2 separate regions of the Homo sapiens genome follow, and region 2 is linked to region 1. Evidence: fine-mapped expression QTL. A gene starts in region 1. The other region holds a variant in brackets. All regions are shown on one strand. Distances are from middle to middle. Region 1 holds the start of MYBL2 (MYB proto-oncogene like 2). Region 2 overlaps SGK2 (serum/glucocorticoid regulated kinase 2).

What was found. PIP is the estimated chance that this variant, and not a neighbour inherited with it, causes the effect.
Region 2: its variant is the best candidate, but not a certain one, in a credible set for the expression of MYBL2 in whole blood (INTERVAL, PIP 0.73).

Annotation. Positions count from the first base shown.
Region 1 is chr20:43,664,663-43,669,662 of GRCh38, forward strand. It overlaps MYBL2 (MYB proto-oncogene like 2), which reads left to right and starts at 2,452. Exons shown (of 14, transcript NM_002466.4): 1 at 2,452-2,641. The coding sequence starts at 2,622. RefSeq lists silencers at 2,247-2,541, 2,278-2,657 and enhancers at 2,247-2,541, 3,308-3,357.
Region 2 is chr20:43,580,117-43,585,629 of GRCh38, forward strand. It overlaps SGK2 (serum/glucocorticoid regulated kinase 2), which reads left to right. Exons shown (of 13, transcript NM_170693.3): 13 at 4,736-5,511. The coding sequence ends at 4,900. Among named protein-coding and RNA genes, the nearest start is that of IFT52, 8.1 kb to the right of the region's middle. The variant G/T (reference allele first, on the strand shown) is at 2,321.

The sequences.
Region 1 (5,000 bases):
GAGTCTGAGTCGGGTAGATCACCTGAGGTCAGAAGTTCAAGACCAGCCTGGCCAACATGATGAAAACCCATCTCTACAAAAATACAAAAAATAGCCAGGCATGCTGGCGCATTCCTGTAGTCCTAGCTACTCGAGAGGCTGAGGTGGGAGAATCATTTGAATCCGGGAAGTGGGGGTTGCAGTGAGCCAAGATCACACCACTGCACTCCAGTCTGGGCAATAAAGCAAGACTTGGTCTAAAAAAAAAAAAAAAGTTAAGTAATTTGCCTAAGATACCGCAACTGAATGGTGGAGCTGGGACTCAAACCCCAGGAAGTTTGGCTGTGGAGGCTGTGCTTTCAATGAAGTGGGCATGTCCACATTAATTACTTTATAAGGGGAGTGGGCGGGAGAAACCCTGAATTAAGTGATGTGGAAGCTTCTAGCACTTAAGATGTGAGTTAGTCTTCCTTCTGTGGTAAGTGAAGTTTGCAGCAGCTGGTGGCTGGACTGTCCCCAGGTGGCCAGCAGCTTCTGGAAGGGGGCTCTGAGGCCTGAACAGGGGCTAAAAGGCTGGGGTTTGATTTGGTTTCTTCAGCGTCCTGTCTCAGAGCTCATTTATCTTCCTCTCAGCACTGCTCCCAGGAAGTCCAGTGTGACTTGATCCTTGGTACTTGGTAAATGTCAATCTAATATAGAAAACCTTTGCTAAATCTCAAGGAAAGACAGTCTCACTGTCTGTCGCCCAGGCTGGAGTGCAGTGGCGGGATGACAAGGGCTTGAGCCCCTCGAACTCCTGGGCTCAAGCAATCCTCCTGCCTCTGCTTCCCAAGTAGCTGGGATTACAGGCATTCACCACCACAGCCAGGTAATTTCTTAATTTTTTGTAAAGACAGGGTCTCACTCTGATCCCCAGGCTGGTCTCAAACTTTTGGACTGAATCAGTTCTCCCACCTCGGCCTCCCAAACTGCTAGGATTACTGGCATGAGCCACTAAATCTGGGCTAATCTCTGGGAGTTTAAACCCAAGGTAAACAATTCAATGCAACAAACCTTTGCCTGGGGCTTCTTATGTCAGGTCTTCTACTGGGCCCTGGAGATACTGGTGTGCATTGAGAGGCCACCTGGACCTCAGGATGCTCCCAGTTCAAAGGGGGAAATGCAGAAGTCTACAGGCAGATTGTGGGCAGTGGACCCCAAATTAAATAGGAATCAGCCACGTGGGAGGGGCAGGAAGTGTTCCTGCCCTGGGTAATGGCTCAGGCAAAGGCAAAGAGGCCGTTTCTTTTGGCCAGGGCTGGGTGGTGGTCTGGAAGATCAGATAAATGTGATTGTGGAGTAAGGAATTTACCCTGAGGGAGAGGAGGATGGTTTTAAATTCTGGAAAGAGCTCACGCCTGCAATCCCAGCACTTTGGGAGGACAAAGCGGCAGGATCTCTTGAGCCCAGGAGTTTCTAGACCAGTCTAGGCAACAGCAACATAGCAAGACACCCCCTTCTCTTAAAAAAAAAAAAAAAAGCGCAGTGGCTCACTCCTGTAATTCCAGCACTTTGGGAGGCCGAGGCGGGCGGATCACGAGGTCAGGAGACCTATACCATCCTGGCCAACATGGTGAAACCTCGTCTCTACTAAAATACTAAAAAAAAAAAAAAAAAAAAAAAAAAATTGCCGGGCGTGGTGGTGTGCGCCTGTAGTTCCAGCTACTTGGGAGGCTGAGGCGGGGGAGTCGCTTGAACCCGGGAGGTGGAGGTTGCAGTGAGTCAAGATCGCGCCACTGCACTCCAGCCTGGCGACAAAGCGAGACACCGTCTCAAAAAAAAAAAAAAAAAAAATCAGCCGGGTGTAGTGGCGAGTGCCTGGTCTTAGCTACCCGTGAGTTGAGGTAGGAGGATCGCTTGAGCCTAGGAGGTGGAGGTTGCAGTGAGCTATGATCGCGAAACTGCACTCCAGCCTGGGCGACAGAGCAAGACCCTGCCTCTAAGAAAAATGAACAACAAAAAATAAAGTCTATTAAGGAGGGTCTCTTGGAGGCAGGAGAGGAAGCAGGGAGAGGCACAGGTAGGGTGAGGAGCCGCTTTAGGGTGCGGCTCTAGGGACCCAGTAGTGGCTTGGACTAGCGTGGGGGATTCCGCCCTGGCGCTTTCCCTGGCTGGCTCTCCCATGCTCGCGCCTCGCTCCCCTTCCTCGGTCTTCGCTATGTGGGATACTCCTGGGCCGCCCCGGACTGACACGTGAGCCAGGCCTCGGTCACATCCCGGCCCGCTCCACAACTCCGAAGTAGCGGCCGCCGCCCCTGTCCTGCAGCCGGCCCTGGAGGGTCTGGGCAGGTGCCGCCCCGCAGGCCCCGCCCCGCCCCGCCCCCTGGCTCCGCCCCTCACTCAGGCCCCTCCCCCGGCGCCCGCGCGCCAGGACTGGGCGGCGCCGACGCGCTTGGCGGGAGATAGAAAAGTGCTTCAACCCGCGCCGGCGGCGACTGCAGTTCCTGCGAGCGAGGAGCGCGGGACCTGCTGACACGCTGACGCCTTCGAGCGCGGCCCGGGGCCCGGAGCGGCCGGAGCAGCCCGGGTCCTGACCCCGGCCCGGCTCCCGCTCCGGGCTCTGCCGGCGGGCGGGCGAGCGCGGCGCGGTCCGGGCCGGGGGGATGTCTCGGCGGACGCGCTGGTGAGACGAGCCGGGAGGGCTTGGGCCCCTCCCCCTCCCTTTAACTCACCCCTCCCCCACCCAGATACCCCCGACCCTCCCCAGGCTCCCACCAAGCTGGGGTGTGTGTGTGTGTTGGGGGTGGGGTGTTTCCGCGGAAATGCTGCGTCCTGGGCCCTCTGAGGCAGGGGCGCGCGTAAAGCTGGGGGGCTCTTGGGCGTCCCTCGCGGCTCCCCAGGCCTGTTGGGCCTCGGAGCTGGGACGGGCGGGTCTCTTGGGACCCGGGCCAAGCCGTGCATGATGTCATTTTGTCTCCCGCCTAATTGCGGGATGGGGGTGGGCCGGCCGGTGTCAGCTGGCAGGGCCTTCGCCGGCGAGGGAGGCGACCCCTGGGAGCGAGAGGGAGTCTTCAAGTCCCAGCCAGTGGGAGACCGAGCCTGGGAGGCACTTGTTGCAGCCTAGTTTTGGGTCAACTTGGTGGGTGGGCTTTGCTCCTTAACATTCCGGGGAGCACAGAGTCCCCCAAGCCCTCTCCCCTGGACTGAGAAGGGTGCTGAGTTGGGGGCTCTTTTGTCTCTCCCACCTGGGTTCCGCGCCCCAGCTTGGTTCGGTTTGAGACCTCTCTTCCTGTTCCCACGAGGAGTTTTGGGCAGCTGGGGTTGAAGGTGCGGGGGAGAGAGAGAGTCCCTGGGGCAAAGGCAGGAACTGCGGTCTCCATTTTACTTATTTCCCCAGAGACTTAAGTGGCAGAGCTGAGCCCGGAGCCAGGTCTGTGGCTCCAGATCCCTGTCTTACACCTGTGCGCCTGGGGCCTGAGCTCCAAGCTTTTCAGCCTGCCTGGGAGACAGGACAGTGGGGTCCTGACCTCTTCCCTGCCTGGATCGCTGCAGCTCAGATAACCTTCGTTCCCTCTTTTTTTTTTTTTTTTTTTTTTTTGAGAAGGAGTCTCGCTCTGATGCCCAGGCTGGAGTGCAGTGGCGCGATCTTGGCTCACTGCAACCTCCGCCTCCCAGGTTCAAGCGATTCTCCTGCCTCAGCTTCCCGAGTAGCTGGGACTTCAGGCACGTGTCACCACGTCGGGCTAATTTTTTGTATGTTTAGTAGAGACAGGGTTTCACCATGTTAGCCAGGATGGTCTCGATCTCCTGACCTTGTGTTCCGCCCGACTCGGCCTCCCAAAGTGCTGGGATTACAGGCGTGAGCCACCTTGCCCGGCCAAACTTCGGTCCCTCTTTAGACGATAGCCTCATCTAAAGATGAAGCCTTCCATCCCTCTAGATTTTTGCCCTTTCAGGCTGAGGATAGGGATCTGAGCACAGGGACTGTGTTCCTCAGGCCCCACTTTCCCAGGCCAATGTCCAGGAAGAGTTTTCTGTTCAGGCGCCTATCAGACCCTGCCCTGGTTTTTTTTTTTTTTTTTTTTGAGGCAGGGTCTCCGTCTGCAGTCCAGGCCGGAGTGCTGTGGTGCTGTCATAGCTCACTGTAGCCCCAACCTCCCAGGTTCAAGTGATCTTCCCAACTCAGCCCGCTGGGACTGCAGGCTGAGTAGCTGGGACTATGGGCACGGGCCGCCACAACTGGCTAATTTATTTAATTATTTAGGAGACAGAGCCACTCTGTGTTGCCCAGGCTGGAGTGCAGTGGCACAATCTCGGCTCACTGCAGCCTCTGCCTCCCGGGTTCAAGGAATTCTGTCTCAGCCTCCCAAGTACCTGGGACTATGGGCACACGCCGCCACGCCTGGCTAATTTTTTGGATTTTTAGTAGAGATGGGTTTCACTGTGTTGCTCAGGCAATCCGCCTGCCTTGGCCTCACAGAGTGCTAGGATTACAGGCGTGAGCCACCGCGTCTGGCGTGTTTTATTTTGTGTAGAGATGGAAGGGGGCGGGAGTGGCCTCGCGTTGTGTCTCACCTCACTATGTTACCCAGGCTGGTCTCGAACTCCTGGCTTCCAGGGATTCTCCCCCACTTGGCCTCCCAAAGTGTCGGGATTACAGGTGTGAGCCACCTTGCCTGGCGCCATCCTGATTTTTTGTTCAGGAAGAGTTATTCCAGGAGTGACTGCCTCTAGACCACCCCAGGTCCTGGGCTACTTCTCCCATGAGGGGCTCAGTGGAGGAACCCCTCCTGTGTGAAGGATGGCAGCTCCACAGCCCTCAGCCCATTTCCTGGCCACTTGCTGTAACTCTCCTCTGCCCTAGTGCCCCACTTCCCGCTTTGTCTCTGACTCACCCCTGTCCTGGAGCAGAGCCCAGCACGTTGAAGGGCAAAAGGTAGGGTATGTTGGACCACAATGTGGTTGCCACCACTAACTGGACTCTGCTTTTTCAGCTGGGATTAGGATATGAGGACTTGCAGGTGTCTGGAGTTAGGAAGGTT
Region 2 (5,513 bases), 84 kb before region 1:
TGCTTGCCAACTCTCCTTATCTAGATGGAAAACTTGGGGGTCCAAGAAGCTCAGTCATTTGTCCTAGGCTACACAGTCAGTTAGAGACAGAACTGGGCCTGACTACAGGTGCAGCTCTTGGATAAACAGCCATGTTGCTGCTCCTTTGTCTTGAGCACCAATAAATAACTCTGGCTGCAGAGACTTTTACAGTTTGTGAAGTGCTCTGTTTCGCACAGCACACCCACATAGGGCCAAGCCCTTTAGAGATATTTTATCCTTTTCTATTTATAGACTTTTTCCTGATAATAAAAATGACATATATCCTTATAAAAAGTATGTAAAACACTGGCCAGGCACAGTGGCTCACGACTGTAGTATCAGCACTTTGGGAGGCTGAGGCGGGTAGATCACTTGAGGTCAGGAGTTTAAGACCAGTGTAGCCAACATAGTGAAACCCCATCTTTACTAAAAATACAAAAATTAGCCAGACATGGTGGTGCACACCTGTAATCCCTGCTACTCGGGAGGCTGAGGTGGGAGAATAGCTTGAACCTGGGAGGCAAGGGTCACAGTGAGCCAAGATCATGCCATTGCACTCCAGCGTAGGCAACAGAGGGAGACTTCATCTCAAAAAAAAAAAAAAAAAAAAAGGGAATGTATGTAAAACAGAAAAGTTTAAAGTAGCAGTGGCGAAATGCTTATTATCTCACTACTTAAGGGAAACCACTGGCATATTTCCTTCCAGTCACTTTTCTATGTGTTTTTTTTTGTTTGTTTTGTTTTGTTTTTTTTCTTGAGATGGAGTCTCACTCTGTTGCCCAGGCTGGAGTGCAGTGGCACAATCTCGGCTCACTGTAAGCTCTGCCTCCTGGGTTCATGCCATTCTTCTGCCTCAGCCTCCTGAGTAGCTGGGACTACAGGCGCCCACCACCATGCCCGGCTAATTTTTTGTATTTTTAGCAGAGATGGGGTTTCACCATGTTAGCCAGGATGGTCTCGATCTCCTGACCTCGTGATCCGCCCGCCTCGGCCTCCCAAAGTGCTGGGATTACAGGCGTGAGCCACCGTGCCTGGCCTGTTTTGTTTTGTTTTTAACCTAATTAGGTCCTACTTTATAGTATCTATATGTGTGTGTGTGTTTATTCATCTATATTATCTTCCTCCTTTTTTGGCTAAAAACTATGTTATAATTTCCTCATGTCATAAAAAATTTTATAAATACAATTTTTAGTGGCTGCATAATATTTCCATCTTATGTTGGTAACATAATTTACTTACCCATGTTCCTAATGGCAATCTTATGGTTGTTACTATGTTTTTTCTTTATCATGATGTGCTGATGAACAGCTTTAAGTATATGTCTTTGCCCAGAATTCTGGTCATTTCTTTAAGATGGATTCCATATGGGGAATTCCCAATGCTAATGTTTTTTAGATTCTTTTTTTATTTTTATTTTATTTATTTATTTTTTTGAGACAGAGTCTCGTTCGATCGCCCATGTTGGAGTGCAGTGGCACGATCTCAGGTTCAAGCAATTCTCATGTCTCAGCCTCCCGAGTAGCTGTGATTATAGGCATGCGCCACCACGCCTGGCTAATTTTTGCATTTTCAGTAGAAACGGGGTTTCACCATATTGGCCAGGCTGGTCTCGAACTCCTGGCCCCGAGTGATCCACTCGCCTTGGCCTCCCAAAGTGCTGGGATTACAGGCGTGAGCCACCGCACCTGGCCATTTTTAGGTTGTTGATTCACACCACCTTTTCACTGTGTGGAAGGGAGAACCATCTACTTCCTACCAGCGGCACTTGCTGGAGAGTTCTCATCTTGCTTGCACTCTGAAGCATGTGTGGTTATTGTTTTTTACTTTGCAAATTTGGTAAGTAAAAAACAGCATCTCTTAATTGTTTTAATTTATATTTCTTTGTCTTATAGTAAAGATGGTTAGTTTTTTAAATTTATTTATTTTTTGAGACAGGGTCTCACTCTATCACCCAGGCTGATGTGCAGTGGCATGATCTCTGCCTATTGCAACCTCCACCTCCTGGGGTCAAGCCATCCTCCTACCTCAGCCTCCTGAGTACCTCAGCCTCCTGAGTAGTTGGGAGGTGGGTGCCACCACACCTAGCTAATTTGTATTTTTTGTACAGATGATGTTTTTCTATGTAGCCCAGGCTGATCTTGAACTCCTGGGCTCAAGTGATCCACCCCCTCAGCTTCCCAAAGTGCTGGGATAACAGGTGTGAGCCACCACACCTGGCCAGTTTTTATTTTCATTTTTATTTTTATTTTTATTTTATTTTATTTTATTGAGGTGGAGTCTCACTTTGTTGCCCAGGCTG[G/T]AGTGCAGTGGCACGATCTCAGCTCATGGCAACCTCTGTCTTCTTGGTTCAAGCAATTCTCCTGCCTCAGCCTCCCGAGTGGCTGGGACTACAGGCATATGCCACCACACCTGGCTAATTTTTGTATTTTTAGTAGAGATGGGGTTTTACTATGTTGGCCAGGCTGGTCTTGAACTCCTGACCTCAAGTGATCTACCCACCACAGCCTCCCAAAGTGCTGGGATTACAGGCATGAGCCATCGCGCCTGGCTTTTATTTTTATATTTTTGAGATAGAGTCTTGCTCTGTTGCCCAGGCTGGAGTGCAGTGGCACGATCTCAGCTCACTGCAACCTCTGCCTCTCCAGGTTCAAGCAATTCTCATGCCCCAGCCTCCCGAGTAGCTGGGACTACAGGCGCTCAGCACCATGCTTGGCTAATTTTTTTGTTGTTGTATTTTTAGTAGAGACGGAATTTCACCATGTTGGCCAGGCTGGTCTTGAACTCCTGACCTCAAGTGATCTGCCTGCCTTGGCCTCCCAAAGTGCTAGTTTTGCAATGTTAATTGGTAGTGGCAGTGTGAATGAAAGGAGTCCTATTGGAGGTGGGCGTGTGAAGCTGTGTGGTCTACCTGTAAAGCATGGTGCCAAGCCCCTTCCATCGAAACAGCCTGCATATCAAACACTGCCAATGTTAATTCACCATTTACATTTCTCATTTGTTTAATTACCTATTCATGAACTTGTCTTTGGGCACTGGATCAGATAGGATACACTCGGGCCAGGCACCAGAAAAGCTTCTTTTCGTTGGGATTTTAAAAAGACAGTGAAGATAATGTCGAACTTATACCCTGGAGAGAGAACCATACATGGAATACTAGGCAGAGATGAATGGACTTTAGAATGAGACACTCCGGAGCTGGATTCCTGGTTTTGTCACCTACCATTTGTGAGGTCTTCAGTAAGTCTCTTTAGTATCATTTTCTTCTACAGTCACACAACTAATAAGGGCCAGGATGCACATTCTGATCTTGGAACTCTGAGTGCTGGGCTGGGACTACCTTGTCTTGTAGCCTTATTGAGAAGCTAGAAACTGTGATCTGTTTGGCTCCATAGCCCGACTTGCACACTAAAGCAGATTTGCAAGCCCTTCCCCTTCCTCACCTGCTTACTTCATAAAACCCAGGCCTCCTCCACAGAGAGACTGTATTGGTTAGCTCTTGGTGTATAACAAGCAACTCCAAAGCTAGGTGGCTTAAAACAACAATCTTTTGGCTGGGCATGGTAGTTCATATCTGTAACCCCAGCACTTTATGAGGCCGAGCTATTAGCATTGCTTGAGGCCAGGAGTTCAAGACCAGCCTGGTCAACATGGCGAGACCCCCATCTTTATAGAAAAATAGAAAATTAGCCAGGTGTGGTGCTGCATGCCCAGCTACTCAGGAGGCTGAGGTGGGAGGCTCGCTTGAGCCTGGGATGTCGAAGCTATAGTGAGCTGTGATCATGCCAGTGCACTCCAGCCTGGGTGATGGGCAAAAAAGACCTTGTCTCTTAAAAAAAATTATTTTGTTCGGATTCTATGTGTTTTTTTTTAAGTCTGAGTCAGGCCAGCTGGTCTCTGTGGAGCTCTCTCATATCTGTGGTCAGCTAGCGGGACAGTTGGCAGTTGTTGATCTAGAATTGCCTCACTCCCATGCCTGGGAGTTGGCAGGCAGCCAGGGCAACTGAGTTCTTCATGAGCCTCTCATGCTCCAGCAGGCTAGTCTGGGGCTGTTCACATGGTGGCATCAGGGTTAGAAGTACAGCAAGAGAGCAACTCCTGATGTGCAATTTTCAAGCCTCTGCTTGTGTCATATTTGGTAATGTCCCATTGGCCTAACCAAGTCATATGGCTAACTTACATTAAAGGAATGGAGAAATAGACTCCACCTCTAGATGGGAAATGGAGAATTTGTGAACATTTTTGTAATCTCCCTCACAGGTCTTCCTCCAAAATAGCTAAAGCAGCCCCAGTCAATCTCCACCATATCACCCTATTTTCTCTTCTTCATAGGACCTATCACCATCCTAAGTTACCTATTTGTACATATGCTTATTATCAATCCTCCTACCCCCCACACAATGTAAGCTCCATGAATGCAGGGGCTCACTTTATCTTGTTCTCCTGTGTTCCCAGCGCCACGAACAGTACCTGGTAGGCATTCAGTAAGTGTTATGTTGATTAACTGACTTGCCTGACGATTGGTGTGGAGGCAGAATACCAGGGGGTGAGAGGAATCAAATGATCAATGTAAATGCACAGGAAAGTGACAGTCAAGTATGGATGACTGTGAAGCATGGGGCACTCACAGAGGCCTGACATCCCTCTCTGAGGATCTGGGCTCCTTTGGCAGCTCTGACCCCGGTGTTTTCTTCTCATCATTGGCTTTTATTGACAGACAGGACCTGCTGACTTGAAGCATTTTGACCCAGAGTTCACCCAGGAAGCTGTGTCCAAGTCCATTGGCTGTACCCCTGACACTGTGGCCAGCAGCTCTGGGGCCTCAAGTGCATTCCTGGGATTTTCTTATGCGCCAGAGGATGATGACATCTTGGATTGCTAGAAGAGAAGGACCTGTGAAACTACTGAGGCCAGCTGGTATTAGTAAGGAATTACCTTCAGCTGCTAGGAAGAGCGACTCAAACTAACAATGGCTTCAACGAGAAGCAGGTTTATTTTTTCCAGCACATAAAAGAAAAATAATGTTTCGGAGTCCAGGACTGGCAGGACAGGTCATCAGATACTCAGAGGCTGTATCTCTGCCCTGCCAACCTTGACAAATGGCTTCCAATGTTAGGTTTGCTACAAGATGGTTACTGGAGCTCTAGCTGCCTATTTTGTGTTTAGGGAAGGGAAAATGGAGGAAAGGGGAGAAGAGCAAAGGGCGCTTTTAAAGAGCTTTCCCAAAAGCTCCACCCAATGACTTCTGCTTCCATCTCACTAACCACCCACCCCTACCTGGAATGGAGGCTGGGAGATGTGGCTTATTTGCTGGGTACGTGACTATCCCTAATAACAAAGGGGTTCTGACACTAAGACATTAGGGGAGAATGTTGGGTAGGCAGCCAGCACTCTTTTACCAGAGGGCCTCCTGGTGTTTGGATTTTGATCTCAATGTGTAAAATGACAGAGATGTAACAAGCTCATAGGGTATCAATATCTCTTATTGTTCTATG